Linked DNA regions of Homo sapiens: region 2 is linked to region 1. The links come from fine-mapping of genetic effects on gene expression. Tissue or cell type: whole blood. Region 1 holds a variant in brackets; the other region holds the start of a gene. All regions are shown on one strand. Distances are between the middles of the regions.

The links. PIP is the estimated chance that this variant, and not a neighbour inherited with it, causes the effect.
Region 2: it holds the start of PXYLP1, and the variant in region 1 is fine-mapped to the expression of PXYLP1 in whole blood (INTERVAL, PIP above 0.99).

Annotation. Positions count from the first base shown.
Region 1 is chr3:141,273,345-141,281,524 of GRCh38, forward strand. PXYLP1 (2-phosphoxylose phosphatase 1) reads left to right here. Exons shown (of 6, transcript NM_001037172.3): 3 at 4,998-5,156; 4 at 6,034-6,160. Among named protein-coding and RNA genes, the nearest start is that of PXYLP1, 46 kb to the left of the region's middle. RefSeq lists an enhancer at 482-651. The variant T/C (reference allele first, on the strand shown) is at 4,845.
Region 2 is chr3:141,228,434-141,236,613 of GRCh38, forward strand. PXYLP1 (2-phosphoxylose phosphatase 1) reads left to right here and starts at 3,392. Exons shown (of 6, transcript NM_001037172.3): 1 at 3,392-3,478. RefSeq lists a silencer at 3,131-3,510.

The DNA.
Region 1 (8,180 bases):
GCCTAAGGTCTACTGTCTGGCTGATGGTTACTCTTCCTAGGTTGAGATCCAAAGCTGGGAAAAGCAGAGAGAGGATCAGTTTGGCTTGCATCCTAGCTATAGCTATGGGAATGTTTACTAGTAATACATACAGAGTCATCCACTGTGCATTCGGGAGATGGGGTGGGGAAGGGTGGTGGGGAGGGAGCCTGCGTGGGATAGCATCTGGTTGTTTTACTCATGATTCTAAGAAATTTGTTGGTTGCTTTTGAGAGGGAGGGTCCCAAGGAGATGCTTTAGAGGTCATGTTCTCTGCCATTTCTTTGAAATTGAGACCTTGTCGGCATCTTTACACATGAGGGTTATAGATGTGTGGACAGGATGAAAGTGATCGTAGATGAGATGAGCAGAGAACACCGCCATAAAAGAGAGGCTTATTTCCAAAGGTAGCTTACGGAAATTTGCCCTCCTACTTGGTAATCACACCACAGAGAAATTGCATGCCCGTTGGTACAGAGTTAATCATCAGTAAAAGATATCTCGTATCCTGTTATTCGTGTTGGTCCTGGTGGCACAGTGGCCCCAGGACACTCATTTAGATTCATGGGTTTTCCCACCTACATAATGAAACTCGTTATCCTTCCATCTATTTATCTGCCCACTATTCTTTCTGATGCCCCCACAGCCTCTTTCTCTTGCCCTGTGACATCTGAGCTGCTGTCATCTGCCTGAGGTCAGCAGAGTTTCTAATTGTTCCACAGGACAGCTAGAGGCACGGGGGGCCTGGGCAAAGCCTGCTGGGAGGAGCAGTGTCCTGGAGCAGTGTCTGCCCCCAGCCCCTGGGTCTGTCCCTCAGCTCCCTTTATCTAGGTGATCGGGGCAAGCCTCAAGAGCTGATGTGGTGAGTAGCACAGCACCAGGGCAGAGGCGGCCTGCAGCCCGGGGTCTGCTCCTCCAGGCCCCTTCCCAGCCTTCCTCCTGGAGCCCGGCCTGCACATCGACCCTGGTGAGGCCAACCTGACCAGGCCTTACGGGACCCAAGGCGTATCCTGAGCCAGCTTGCTGACCCCCATCTGCCATGTTTGGCTGTGTTTCACGGCCTCCCCTCTGCTCCTCTCCTCTTCCCCTCCACACAGCCAGCTTCATCAGTTTTTCAGGCCCAGCTAGGTGTCTCCTCTGGGAAGCCTGTTTGGATGCCCCTCACCCCAGACTGGTTCGGCAACCCTCAGTGCTCCACATGAGGAGTCAATGAGATATTTCATCAAAAGCATGGAGCACAGCGTCTGCCCCAGTTCAGCAGGTATTTTTGGAAGACCTATCCTCTGTCAGTCAGCGGGGGATATAAATGTGAAAGACGCACACTCCCAGCCCTCTGGATGTTTGGGATGGCAGGGTGACAAACTGGGACACCCCTGCTTGCATATACTATGCTGTGAGCCATGACGGCAGCAGGAACTGGGTAGGCTCATAGAAGAGGATGTGGGAACTGGGGATTCAGGGCGGGCTTCCTGGAGGAGGTGACCCTAGGATCAGTTACAGTGTTGGTCAGATTTCGGGAGCAGAGGGTGAGAGTAGAGTTGCCAGCAAACGGTGGAGCATAGGCGAGAAACATCCTGTGGGGTGGGATGGCTCAGAGCAGCTCAGAACAGTGAGAACCAAGTTGGGATTGGGGTCAAGATGGAGCTGGGGAGACTTCTCCTCACAGCTTCTATGTGTCAGGACCTGTTTTGAATGCCTGGTATTGGGAAGGCCCCTTGTGAACTGATGCTATGTCCTGGTGACTCAGGGAGGTACAAATAGTACAGGGTGATCTCACACTCTGAACTAGTAGACACAGTTGACAGGCCCAGATACCAGAGGAAGCAGCAGATAAAATCTTTCTGGAGAGAAGGTCTCATTCTGATCTTTATCTGTGGTTTTCAAACCACTGCTTCCTTGGGTCATGGGTGGGTCATTTGCACCCAACCACCATGGTTCCCAAATGGCAGCCACAACAGGCCTCACCCCGGGTGCTTATAGATGAACTAGCAAACTGTGGGCACTCTAGGACACCCACTGTCCTCACCTGTGCCCCTCCATTTCTGTGTCACTCATATTATCCTGTCTCCTTAGCTGCTTCTGTCCCTGGCCCAGACTCCAAGGGAGTGTGCCCACAGGCATGGCCAAGGGGCCAGGACTTGGTAGATTTCACAAAAGAGCAGAATCAAGGACTGAGCCAGCCAGAAGGGCCAGGTCACTAAGAGACTGCCTTAGCACTTTTCTATATTTCCGTGCTCTTGTGCTAATCCCCCTGTAGTGAATTCCCTCTGAACACCTGGGCTGTGTTAGCCATCCTAGCACCTTCCAACTACTGGAAAGAAAGTGGCCCTAGGAGCAACCAAAGGGCTAATGTTGGGTGGGTGAATCACCAGTTCTGTATCTCTGTGATTGTTGTTTTGGTAACACAAGTAATGAAGGGAAATACGTTCACTGTAAAAAAAAAAAAAATGCTTACCTAGACAGCATAGAAATACAGAAATATATATTTCTATACATATAGAATACATTAATATGTGCTTACTATAAATACATATGCAGTCATGTACCACATAATGACTTCCATCAACGACAGAACACATATATGACAGTGGTGCCATATTATAATACCATATTTTTACTGTATTCTTTCTAAGTCGAGATATGTTTAGATACACAAGTACTTACCATTGTGTTACAACTGCTTACAACATTCAGTGCGGTAACATGCAGTTCAGGTTTGTAGCCTAGGAGCGGCAGGCTGACCAAATAGCCTAGGTGTGTAGAAAGCTCTACCATCTAGGTTTGTGTAAGTGCACTCTATGATGTTTACACTATGACAAAATTGCCTAAGGGCCATCTCTCAGTGCCTCCCCATTGTTACGCAACTCATGACTGTACGTATATGTGTGTGCGAATATACAAACAAGTAAAAATACTTTTTCACACCCCATTCCATCCTTTCCCAGAGGAAAACCACTGCTGTGTTATGATGGATAACCTTCTAGACATTTTTTCTATGCATTTACGTAATAAACAAATCCCTGTATATTTATGCATTTATGGTTTGTTTTTTTTCTTTACACAAAGAGGATTATATCAGTATACAGTGACTTGGTGTATTCACTTCACTTAATTTATCTTTGATTCTTTTCCCTTCTTTTTAACTGGGATAGAACATTCCACAGTAGGGACATAACGTTCTGTTCTGCTAGAGATGGATATTTAGGTTATTTCCCTTTTTTGTTATTACAAACAGCACTGCAGGGAATCTCTTTGGCCACACATTTTTGTGCGTGGGCATCGCTATCTTTATAGATACAGAATGGATTCCAAGACGTAGAATAACGAGATCGGGGGTAGTGCACATATACCATTTTGATGGCTACTGCCAAACACTCCCGAGAGGTGCCGGTTTCCACCCTCCCCATGATGTTTGGAAGCGTCAGGTTTCTCACACCCTTCCCAATATTGAGTGTTATCATTAAAACATGATTTTCCAGTTTGATGAGGAAAAATTATTAATATAGTCCACTGTTTGATTTATATTTCTTTAATTATGAATAAACAATTATGAAAAACAGTATCACACTGTTGTTTTATCTGTATCTAATTATGAACAAACTTAAGCATCTCTTCATGTGTTTATTGGCCATTGGTATTTATTTTTCTGCGATTAGCCTGTTCATATCCTTTAATGATTTTTCAGGTGTAGGGTCTCTTATGGACTTTGGATATTAATCATTTGTCTGTTAGGTTAGTTGCAAATATTTTTCTCTCAGTGTGTTGCCTTTTATCTTTGTTTATGGCATCTGTTTGCCAAAGGGAAGTTTTAAATATTTATGTAGAAGAATTTGTAGAAGTAATTAGGGAATTTACATTGATTTAGGCTGGTGGTTGGTCCCTGTTTTAGCTATTGTTCGTGCGCATGTGTAGATATTATGGTGATTAATAAATCTTTTAGAAGTTAAAAAGATCTGTGAGCACACTTATTTTCATGTGTTTCCCTCAAAGGGCGGATGCTGAAAGTATGACTATACTGTGTTGGGAGTTCTAGAGGATCTATGATGCTACAAAGACATTCCCTAGGCACGGAGAGATTAGGGACCACTGAGACAGAAGCTGTTCATGAGGGATAGATGGCTGGGCAGCCCCACATTTCCATTCTTACAGATTAGCATCCGAAAGAAAAAGAGCACCTCTTCTAGAGTCTGTATATCACCTGTCTCGAGGAAAGGGAGTCCAGTTGCCCCATTACTACCCTTATTGACTCTGGTCACATGTCCACCCCTGCCAGGGGGTGGGGACACTGTGATTGACAGTCCAGCCTGACCACACGTGGTGGTGAAGGGTCAGCTCACTAATGGAATGAGGGTAGTAGATGGACAAGCACACAGATTGCAAGACCCACACATGCCACGCCGAAGACAGTGGCAGGGAAGCTGGCCTGAAGTCAAGGAGTAAGCGTGAGACAGGCTTTCACCCACCACACATGCCTTGGTCCTTGGCTTTCTTCTGTAAAGTGCTCTCATGGGTTAGATGAGCGACTCTGAAGGCCCACAAAGCATAAAGCAGATGATGATAAATGGGATATGTCAGACACCCACATCTGGCACCTAGCAGGTCTTCAATGAGGAATGATGGTTTTCCTCCTTCTTGTTGTTACTGGAATTAAAGGGCATTAGGAAGAGGTAATCAGGTCCTAAGAAGTTAGTGTGTGAGTTCTTCCTCCAACTGCCCTGAGAGAGGCCCCTTTGCTTGGGAGGCTCCCCTGGTGTTGAATAGATGATAAGGAGAGGGTAGTGGCAGTGACGAAGGGGCAGGACACAGTGGGGCTCAGAAGCCCTTCT[T/C]GAATGGGAAGCTGACTTCTGCTCCACTGAAGTGCACCTTGATTCTCAGTGTAAGAATAGCTCCTCAAAGTGAAATCCAGCCCTGCGCTGGGCCTTGCAGCTGGCCTGGCGCCCCAGGAACTGTGCGTCACAACCTGCCTTACTTCGTTTCAGTCCACCTGATCCCGGTGTCGACTCCTAAGAATGGAATGAGTAGCAAGAGTCGAAAGAGAATCATGCCCGACCCTGTGACGGAGCCCCCTGTGACAGACCCCGTTTATGAAGCTCTTTTGTACTGCAACATCCCCAGCGTGGCCGAGCGCAGCATGGAAGGTAGGCCTGACTGTGCCACCAGGACAGATACCCCTTTGGGGACTAGTTATTCCAGCAGCATTGCACAGCAGTAAGGAGCAAGATGGCCAGGACCCAAGTCCTGCAGTTGCCACCAGGCTGTGCCCTTGAATGAGTTCCTGGGTCCTTGCATTCTCCTCTATAAAATGGGAGTAACTCACAGGACTTATGCCTGGGACTGGGGAGGTTTCAGTAACTGCTCTGAACATACCACGTGGCTCACGATCAACCCACCACAAATGTTTGCCATCATCATGATCTTTAGTGAGACAGCAGCAAGGTAGAAAGGTGGCCTTGGCAGGCACTAGTGCAGCACATTGAGACACTCTGCTTTTCAGGGTAGCCTCTTGGGACTCAGGATGTCCACAGGATGTCCTGCTGGCGTCTTGCCATAGAAGTGAGGCAATTTCTACAAGTTTTGCTTTTGTAAAAGTGTATCAGAGCATAGTGTTGAATCCTTATTGATCTCTTTATGCCTTCTCTGGTCTCATGAAAGATTTAAAGCAGAAATCATTGTTTCTAGTATTTCCGTGGCTCTCTCCCTGGTCTGTGCATGTGAGTGAGGCCACATTAGTAGTCATGCCCGCATTTCACCAGCCTCCCGTTGTTTCCAGGAGGTCTGGGACATAATCAGCCTACTCATGTTCCTCTGTCCCGCCTTGTAAGACTATTCAGTGGCCCCCATCCAGAATGGCAGCCAGGGCCCCTTCACTGTGGTGGCTCTGCAAACCCACGGTGGCCCCTGCTGCCTCCGGCTCAGATTCCCAGCCCAAATGTGGCCAGGTCATCCCCTTGGCCCCCTTCTAAAAGGATTGACACCTATTGAGTGATAACCAGACAATGTGCTTCTCTCGCGCAGGTCATGCCCCGCATCATTTTAAGCTGGTCTCAGTGCATGTGTTCATTCGCCACGGAGACAGGTACCCACTGTATGTCATTCCCAAAACAAAGCGACCAGAAATTGACTGCACTCTGGTGGCTAACAGGTAAATTGCACTTTTTCTAAAAGTCATTTTCAAGTGTCTGTTATATCCTGTAGGATAGAGAATGACAGGACCTACACTTGGTGAACCATACTGTTTGCAGGAGCCTGAGCTCAGAGCAGTCCTACATGTGAGTGCCATTATACAGTTGAAAAGATGGAGGCCCACAGAGGCGGGGACACCTGTTTGAAGCAACACAGCAGATATACTGAGCCCAGGCCAGTCTGAGGCTCACCCTCCCACCCTGATGTTTTTCACTTTAATAAACAGTTGGGACACAGTACAGTGAGCACTGAGTTAAGAGTCCTCCGCCCCAGCTCACCTGCTCCATTCAGAGCAGCGGGCAAGCCCCTTAGTGTCCTCTGAGCCTCAGCCTCCTACCTCTGAAACGGGGATCACAAGGCTCCCCATGCAAAGTTGGGGCAAAGAGTAAGTGAGATGACACAGACAAATGCACGTTAGCAATTGCAGAGCCATATAAATGTAAGAATTATTTCACCCTTCTAATTTTTCACTGGAGTAGAGGCAGCCTGTTCTTGGTTGAAAGCCCTTAGGATGAAAAATAATTGAACAGAGTGTGGAAATTGTATGGAAATGGCATGGCTCTAAAATTAGAGGCATAGTTAGCAATAAAATATTGGGCTAGACCTCAGCAAATGTGTCTGGAGGCACATAACATTCTAGCAGAGTTTAGTGAATGAGGTCAGGAGATGAAGTGCTCAGTGGGGAAGACGTTATTTTGATGGAATGCTTCTGGGATGCCAGCCTGCCCCGGGAGGGCGAGCCTGGTGGAGCCATGGATTACCTCACTACAGCCAGGGCTGTTCTTTAAAAGTGACACTTTGTAGCTCGTCTTGCAGGGCCCCTGTCACAGTGATGCCAGGACCCTCTAATGGGGCCATTTTTGGCGCTCCCATTTGAGAGGTTCAGTTCCTAGGGACCAGTTGGCCTGGCTGCCTCTGCCCTCATTTTCCTTTGCCTAGTTTTATTTTATTGAACATTCTGTATTTTTAGAAGCCACTTTAAATCCTTTGTGTGAAGAGGGTGGAGTATGCATAGTTACTTAATGTCATTTAATTAATTTAATCTTTAAAAACAGTAATAGTTGACTCATCATTATAAACAGGTACTTAAGAGTAAGAGTGAGCAGGAACCCCGGTGAAGGGGACCCTCTCTAGGCTGCTGACTCCCCCAGGACTGTGGGATCTGGGTCACGAGCAATACCTGCTGTCTTCCCAGGTGCTACTTCAGCTTTAAAAATTACTAATGTTGTGATCTCCTAAAAGGTGGTGTGCCCTGGAGCATGCCCATTATTCTAGTCTAGTGAAACGGAATACTGTGGCCAGCAGGCAGGGTGCAGTGAGCTGAACCAAGCACTAGCTGGCGGTCCACAAGTTTGTTGCCCCAGGGTTTCCATCCACGATGCCACACCCTGTGACTCTCAAAGCCTTTGTAGTAGAAGCTGCCTCTTTGTGAATGCCATGTGCTTTATAAGGAAGGTGCTATTTTAACCCTCATAGTATTACATTTAGCCAGCATTAAGGTTATTAGTTATTTATATGCCATATTTAGTAAATGCTTTTTTGCATTCATAAATATGAATTAAATATGCTTTTCTACATCCAAGGAGGAGAAAACATCCACTTTGATCAGCATTTATTGCACAAATTTTAGTTTTATGCTTCTATCATGTGCCAGGTACCAGAAGGCAGTACACAAGCAGGCACCTACATGAAGTGAAGGGGCCAGCCCTGTGATGGTCCGGGGACAGAGCGTTCCCTATGGAGTAAGCAGCAAGTGCAGGGGGCCCGAGGCTGAAAGAACTGGGCAGGTGTGAGCCACAATAAGACCAGGGTATGGCTGGGCTGGAGCAGTGATGGAGGGAGTAGGCTTCTGAGGAGTCGAAGAAGAAAGGCCGCTTGTTGGGGCTGCCTCTGCCCTCAGGGAGCTCAGCACATTTACAGAGACAGGCCCGGTGCCCAGGACACGGCAGCCCTCAGTGAATAGCTGGCACAGGTGGCAG
Region 2 (8,180 bases), 45 kb before region 1:
TAAAATCTGTCATAAGTCAAGACTGCAGGCAGCACAGGCCTTTGGAACTTAGAACATGGTGCAAATAACCACTCCACCTCCATCCCCTAGAGGACTCCCTGGTATTGTCATCTGTCATCTCAGTCTCTGTCCTAGACTATTTGTCTTTCCCCATGGTAAAGTCCCTTTAAGTGTAGAGGCAGTAGCTCATTGTTTCTTTAAGTCTACAGTACGGGACAAAGGAGGCTGTGCAAATATTTGTACAATTTTTGCTCAAAGGCTTGAAAGTGAATTGAAGCTGGACACCTGCTCCCAGTTGCTTATAGTCTAGGAAGGGATCACTTGTGTAACATGGGAGCAAATGCTGCCTAGCGGAATATTCGTGACTTGGGTGAGTCTGGGACTATTTTTATAAGATGGGTGGGCTCTGCTTTTAATGAATGTTGAGGGTTTCCTTGGAGGTCAAGATGTGAATTTGGAAAGGACAAAGGAGCAGGCTGGGAATAAGAGGGGAGACAAAAGTTATTGAGCATACTGCATGCACTTTTCATTTCTACAGTTTACAGTTACCAAAGAGGATGGCTTGCTCATTTATCATATGAATAACGGTGATGATAGTTGCTATTTTACAGGAACTAATGTGTGAGGTCCTATGCTAGAGGCTTATACTAGTCAAGACTCTCTTGGTTGCAAGTGACAGAGAAAGCCAATTCTAATTTGCTTGGGGGAAAATGGGGTATTTACTGGAACACGTACTTGAAAAATCCAGTGGTATGTGGGATTCAGGCACAGCAGAAACCTGCCTATGACATCCATTCTGTTGTGAAGGTAAACAAAAAAGAAAGAAAGAAAGAAACCTGCCTATCTCACCACTCTGCTTTCCTCTGTCAGCTGCAGTCTCTGGCACAGTCTCCCCAGGTGCTGGCCAGATGGTCCCCAGCTGTGTCAGGCTGCCATCCTGCCTCTTCAGCAACCACGGAGGAAAGAGATTTAGTGGGAGTAATGGTCTTGAGATGCTTCCTCATATCTATTTTCCCTGTAGGAAGCTTTTCTTTTTTCTTCCCTATAGCCCCTTTCTCCATTAAGGCTCGGTGGGTACCACTCAGAACCCAGAGTCCACAGGGGGAGGAGATGCCTCCTCTAGAATGGAAGGTAGCATAGACATCCTCAGGGAATCGGGAAGGTGAGGTAAAGAAACAGGATGTGAGTCTAGGGAGTGTATGATGCCTGATTCCATGAGGGCCTGAGGCTATCCCTATACCAAGTGTGGACCTAGGGAAGGGGGTGGTACAAAGACACAGATCTCAGATAGGTTAAGGAGGAAGCTGAAAGCAGAAAGGGCCTGTGTCCTATCTCCAGGCTGAGACTCTGCCCCCACAGTATGCCCTGCGCTGTCAAGCAAAGCGCTGGTGTGGCAAATTTTGCAGAGAAATGGCTAGAGATGGTGCCCTGAGTTACCTTTAGTCCCCTTGTGACAGAGAAGGGATCCAAGAGTGCCTACATGCTCCCTGCTGAGGGTGATAGTGTGTCCACGAGTGAACCCACCTGCCATGGAGTCACAGAGGCTGAGAGCACAGCATGGACATGTGGCCCAATCCTGCAAACAAAGCCAGGTCCAAGGCTAGTTGCAATGGCTGGCAGAGAAGCTGATTTTCTGCTAGAACTAGAGCTGTGAGGCTGTGAGCCTGGATCTGCCAGGGTCTCATGTGCGCATGAAAGCGTAGTTCATGTGGAAGACAGCAAAACTGAGACGGGGAGTCCCTGAGACCCTGGGACTAAAGCCAGGCCTGAAGCAGACAGGCTCTTCATGTACACAGCGGATCAACCCTTTGTGATTTAAGTTAGTGTGAATTGGGTTGTCTTTTACAGCAGAAAGCACCTTGACTAACCCATGTAGAGAAGAGGGTGACAGTGTGAGCTAAGCAGTAGAGCCTGCAATCCGTGAGAGGACAATCAGAAGGGGCAGAGGAGACATTGTTGGGCGGGCTGCGGTGGGCTTCTGTGGGGGCCAGGTGGGAGAGTTGGGGGTGATGCCAAAGGGGACAGTGAAAAGATTTTGTGCTCATGGATTGGGAGAGGCTGTCAGTATTCAGGGCAGAAAAAAGGCCCGGGATAGCGCTGCATCGGGGGAATACCAGAGGCGGACAGGCAGCAAAGTCCGGTACTGACGAGCCATTAAGGCACCTGATGAAGAAGGCATGACAGGTGGCTGAGAGAATGGCGAGACCACGGGGATAAATGGAGTTGGGAGCTTGGAAGAGGTAAAATTTAGTGCCAGACGTGGTAACTTGAGGAGGAAAGTTCTAAGAAAAAAACCGGAGGGTAGGGGGAAATATGGCTAACATATCTGAGCCAAGTGTGTGGATTTGAGAGCCATCAATCAAGGAGAGAAAGCAGAAGTCAAGGGATGAGATCCTCCCAAAGGTGCACCTCAAAGGTATATAGTAGCAAATTCGAATCCGTATCTATTTTGCCTGAGGCTAGTTGTGCTAGGACACACAGGGTTGCTGTAGACCTCGAGCTGACAGCAAAGACCTCTCTGATAATCGCTGTTGGTCGTTTCATCTCCCACAGAGAAATCTGGTGGAAATCTCCACCAGCTGGAACCTAACATTTGCAATAAATGACCCACAAATACTGATCAAACCAAATACAACCGTTCGCCTATCAGATGTCTAACGGGGCGTTACAGGCAGCCCTCAAGTGCTCTGAGGATCTTCAGCAGCGGCTCCAAGGAAGCCGCGGGCCGGGAGCAGGTGGGAAGGGCGACTGCGCGGGGCCACGACCTCCCCGGGTCTCTGCAGACCGTTGGAGACGGAGCAGCAGCGAGGACTAGAGCAACACAAGGCCGGATGTGTTCTGAGCCGGAAGAGGAGTGTGGGATAGGCCGAAAGGGGTGGGGGGTGGGGGGTGACAGTTTGGGTCTACGTGGCAGCAGGCGCACCCCAGACGCGCGCGCCCACCCGGCGATAGCATCAGCGGCGCCAGGGCAGGCACATGGCCCCAAAGCACCCACACTAGGGCCCGGGCCGGCCAGGGCTGTGTTCCTGGGCCTTGGCGCGCCTCCGCGCAGTCCCTGATCGCAGGTCAGGAGTTGTGAGGCACGCGAGAGCCCTGCGCGTCTGTGGTCGTGGTCCCTGCGCGCTCGGCTTGTCCGTGCCCGTGGCTTTGCACGCCGAGGGCTCTGCAGACTGACCAGTCTCTCCGGGCTGTGCTGGGCCTCCCAGAGGCAGTGTCCTCTCAGCAACCCCGCGCGGTCGCCCCCGCCCAGCCGCACCGCAACACCGCCTCCGGGGCGGAGCTCCAGGGCTCCTGGTGCAGGGCCGGCCGAACTGAGACGGGGCGCGGCGGGGTCGGCAGGGGGCGCTGCCGGGCCCCGCGAGCTCCCCGGTGGCGGGTGCGCGCCGCCCTCGCCTCCCCTCGCGCCGGGAGGAGCTGGCGGCGAGCGCCGAGCCGGGCGCGCAGCGACGGAGCTGGGGCCGGCCTGGGACCATGGGCGGTGAGTGCGGCGCGGGCCTGGGCCGGGGCGGTTGCCGTTGGGGCCGAGCAGCGCAGAGGTTCTAGGCGGGTGGGCGTCCAGGGTCCGAGGTTGGGAGACTGAGGGGGTCCCCCTAACTCGCCAGTGGGAGAGGGGCGGGAAGGCTGGGGGCGCTTCGAAGCGTCGGGTCCGAATCCCGCGACTAAGCCTCCTCCTTTATCCCCGCGCTCGCCCCTGAGCCTAGGACTTGCGCCCTCTTTCCTGCCACTCCCCCCGTGCGCCCGGTGTCCCAGCCCCGGCGCCCGCCCCATAGCCCCCTTCTCCCAGAGCTGGCGCCGTCTCACGCCCGCTGCGAACCCCCGGCTCTGTCTCCAAGCCCTCGCCCCCCGCAGCCCCGCACTCTCCCGCGGAGCCCGCCTCCACCTCGCCCCCGCCCTTCCAGCCCTCTCCCGCACGGCCCCCGCACTCCCGCCGCTGGATTCCAGCCGAGATTCAAGCTCCCGGGATCCCCCTTCCCGGGCGGTCCTGAGCCGGCTAGTCTCCAGGTAAGGAGGCGGCCGCAACTTCGCGGCCTTTCCCGGAGACGGGGCTGGCTCCTCTTGGCAGCCACCTGCAGCCTGACGCCTCCGGGAGTCCCGGGCCTGGCCACGGGGCCGCCCGAGCGCAGGTTAACATTCCTGGATGCGCAGGTTAGGACCGTGTGGTGTAGACCCACGACGTTGCTTTTGCTGGTGAACTTGCCTATGTCCTGATCTTTTAAATAAGCTGGGTTTGTCACACACACACACACAGAGAGAGAGAGAATGGATTTGCTTAGGGTAGGTTGCCTGCTTTGCAGCCGCAGCTGCCTTTTAAATTGTACCTGTGGATGGTAAAGGATTCACGGTGCAGGACGTGGAGCCATATTTTCCCGCTTCGGCTGTGAGTTCAGCGATTGCGAGGGGGCTCTGTAGTGAGTGAGGTTATCACCGCCTGGCTAGCCAGTGTCTTTGTGGAAAGGCAAGGATCCTTTGTAAGCATTCAACAAGTAAAATCAGGAGAGATGGGGAATCAGATCGAGCTGTGAATGGGGAAGTGTAGGGGGGTGGATGGGGGATCGGAGAGTGCTCCACAAATGGAGCCGTTTGTTGATATTTGCAGAAGGCCCGTGGGTGTGAAGCTGGCAGTGCGGAGCCCACCCTTTCAAACGGGATGCGACTGCGGTCGGGCTTGGCAGTAACTTACCCTCCTCAGAGGTGTTGGTGCCCAATCGGGACATCTGTGGGAAGGGGATTTATAGCAGATGGATCAAAAGGCCTCGGGCGCGGTGGCTCACGCCTGTAATCCCAGCACTTTGGGAGGCCGAGGCGGGCGGATCACCAGAGGTCGGGAGTTCGAGACTAGCCTGACCAACATAAAAACCCCGTCTCTACTAAAAATACAAAATTAGCCAGGCGTGGTGGTGCATACCTGTAATCCCAGCTACTCAGGAGGCTGAGACAGGAGAATCGCTTGCACCTGGGAGGCAGAGGTTGCAGTGAGCTGAGATTGCGCCATTGCACTCCAGCTTGGGCAATAAGAGCAAAACCCTGTCAAAAAAAAAAAAAAAAAAAAAACCCTCGTGGTCCCTGGAGAGAGGTGAAGATGCACGGGACAGCCTGAAAGCCAGTGTATGAATCTGCCCCATCCCTTCTCCTGGCTTTCATTAAGTCTTGGATTAAATTAATTGCTTATCTCAGAGAAAGGATGTGTAGGGGGAACTTCTCTGTTAGGGATTGGCTCCTGGCCAGCCCATCCTCACTGATGCCTTGGGAGGCTGCGTTTGGGCACCAGGAACAGCGTGGGCCACCTGGCCTTTGGAGCACAGCACTCCGAGTGTTTGTGGAACTGCAGTATCTGTAACTCTTTTTTCTATTGATCAGCTTGAATAGTTAGCTCAATATTACTTCACTATTGATTAGATAAGTAGCCCAAGGACATACTGGGGCTCAGTAGGGTCTCTCTGTCCAGAAATTCCCGTGGGCTTCTCCTTGGCCCTCCCTACACCGCTCTGTGATGAGTCGCTGTCAGATGCCCCACTGTGCAGGAGCATCTTCAGGGATGGGTGGAAGGAACCACCTCTGTGGCCCCAGGTCCCTGCCTGGTCCCCCCTGTCTACCACATAGGGGTACTCAGTGTTTGTGAGGAAAAAAAATGGATGCCCCGGTGAATTAGTCTGAGTTCACAACCAATGTTTTCTACACTTTGCTACACTGTTCAAAATGTTACCCTTAAATTCAACAGTTTTTTTTTTTTAATGTGTCATATCACCAGAGACAAACTCATTTTTGTGTGTGTTTGGAGCAGTGAGTGCAATCTACGGATCAGTCTCTGATGGTGGGTCGTTAACCTCAGTGGGGACTCCAAGATTTCCATGAAGAAAATCAGTTGTCTTCATTCAAGAATTGGGGTAGGTGGTGGTGGGCGCCCTTGGAAGCTACTAAGTTTGTCTGCTGAGGGTTGAGTCCACCATAGCTTAACCTATAGTGCCCAGAGCTGTAGCCCCAGTCCCCTTTAACATTTCCTATCCCTGCCCACTGACGGAGGAAGCTCCCAGGGAGACAGGGTACCACTTGCAGAGCCCCACTGGCCACTTCAGATTGCACCATCCCCACTCCAGTGGGTGTTGCTTCCTGTGGCGAGCTGGGAGTGCCTCTTCTTGCACATTTCTGGCACTGTGGCTTGCAGCTCTATTGGTGGGAGGGAGGTTGGTGTTTTGGGCCAGTGCTTTGGTCTCTTGGAGGTGGCTATAACCCACTGGCAGATGGGGCAAGGTCCAGCTCTTGTGCCTCTGTCAAAGGCCACCCCCAGGCAGTACAGCCAAATGCTGAGGGGGTGGGAACACCTCATGTCCCCCTTTTTTTGTGGGGGAATCTGGAAAGGGCTAAAATTGAGACTGCCACTTGGCTGTGGGAGCCTGCACTGCCCCTGGCTGTCACGAACTTATCTTTCTTACCCAGATTGTCTCTGTCTTCAGGTCTGGCTCAGAATTCCTGCAGCTGGTGAAAATCTGTTTTCTAGAAGAGGTTTAATTAATGCCTGCAGTCTGTGAGTAAGAGAAAGGGAGGAGAGGGAGAAAGAGACATACTACTATCTAGAGGTGGGTGGGAGAAAGGATAGGAGAATGTTCAAGGTCCTGAAAATTCATAGGGGGAGATTTTGGCCCCAGAACCTGTCCCTGGACAAGGTTCCTGGTTGGTGGATAAGGAAGTGTGCCCACATTCCAGTGTAGGGGTTACCAGTTAGGAGCAAAGTCACTGAGATAGGAAAAATGACCCCATGGGAATCTGAAATCCATTTGCTGGGCCCATCATTCTGGTTTTGAGAAGGCCTTGAAAGCCAGCTGAGACTTGGGCTTAGCACGGCAGGAGAGCACTGAGCTGTTTGAAGTTTTTGAATGAGGTGTGTGCCCTTTTGGAAATAATGGCTTGAGCAAGATTGGTCTGGGGTTTGGCCTGGGAAGCCACTTTACCATGGCTTAATTTATAGGCCCTGAGCTGTAGCCCCAGTCCCCTTTGACATCACCCATTTTCCAATGGAGGAAGCTTCCAGGGAGACAGGGTACCACTTGGAGAGCCCCCATGGCCACTTCAGATTGCAGCCATTGCCACTTCATCTCACCTGAGGTGCTGAGGGGAGAGTCTAGGTAAGTGACAAAAGGAGCAGTGGCTTGGAAGGTCTGTGCACCTGTATTTAGGAGGTGAAGAAGAGGGAGCAGCTTTCTAGTAGGATGGTGGGCCTTTTGATAGAAGCATCTCCCAGGGACTCTTTTTGAACCTGCTGTGCAGCCTTGCAGGTAAACGACGGCCCATTGGAGCCTCTCAACCTGGAGATGCTGCATGGCAGCCACGAGGAGGCACCCGTGAACCCAGAATGAATTTCAGGGTCCGCTCTGAGTCCAAAAGGCAGGAGGGCCCTGGCCAACTAACACCTAACTGAGCCACAGACTCTGGCCTGTTTATCCTCCACCCTCAAAACCAGCAGGCTTCTCTGACCCTTTTTGGACTTTGGCTGGGGAAGCCACTGGCTTTTGGAAAAAGTTCAGTCTGCAGTGATGGCGGGAACAATCTCAGGAGTCTGGAAGAAGTTAATGATTAAAAAGGCATGGAAGAAGAACTGGATGGCGGCTTGGGGAGTAGTTTCTGCAGTCAGGAGGCACCCTTCACCTCATTCCCTTGGCCCACAGTCATCTGTGCATGCGTCTGCCCCTCCCTCCATCAGTGGAGCTCCCTCTGAGCTGCGTACTCGAGGGTGGAGGAGAGTTTGGGGGAACTCAAACATGTGGTAGTAGAGACTGTAGTAACTTTAAAATTCTCTTTGTATTTGCAGAATCATTTCCCCAATTTACACACTCATGTTTCAGTTTACAGGGCATCCTTTTGTCACCTGCTCGCCACCCTTATGCCCCTGGGTGTGACCAGCTTCCTCAGAAAGAGCTGTAATCAATAGCATATTGATTAAAAAGCATATTAAGATGAAAATTATTGCACCTGGTTTTGATGCCCCCACTCTCTCCCCTTTCCTCCTCCACTTCTGTTTGTGGTTACAGCCATCATTTACATTAAAGTTACAAATCATTTTGAATACTATTTGTCCCACCCCTCAGTTATTCAGAGACATGTGTCTTTTCAACCAACAAAACCACAGCTTGCTTTCCTAAGCTTACCTCATTCTTGGATCTAACACCAACCTTCAGGCCTTCAGA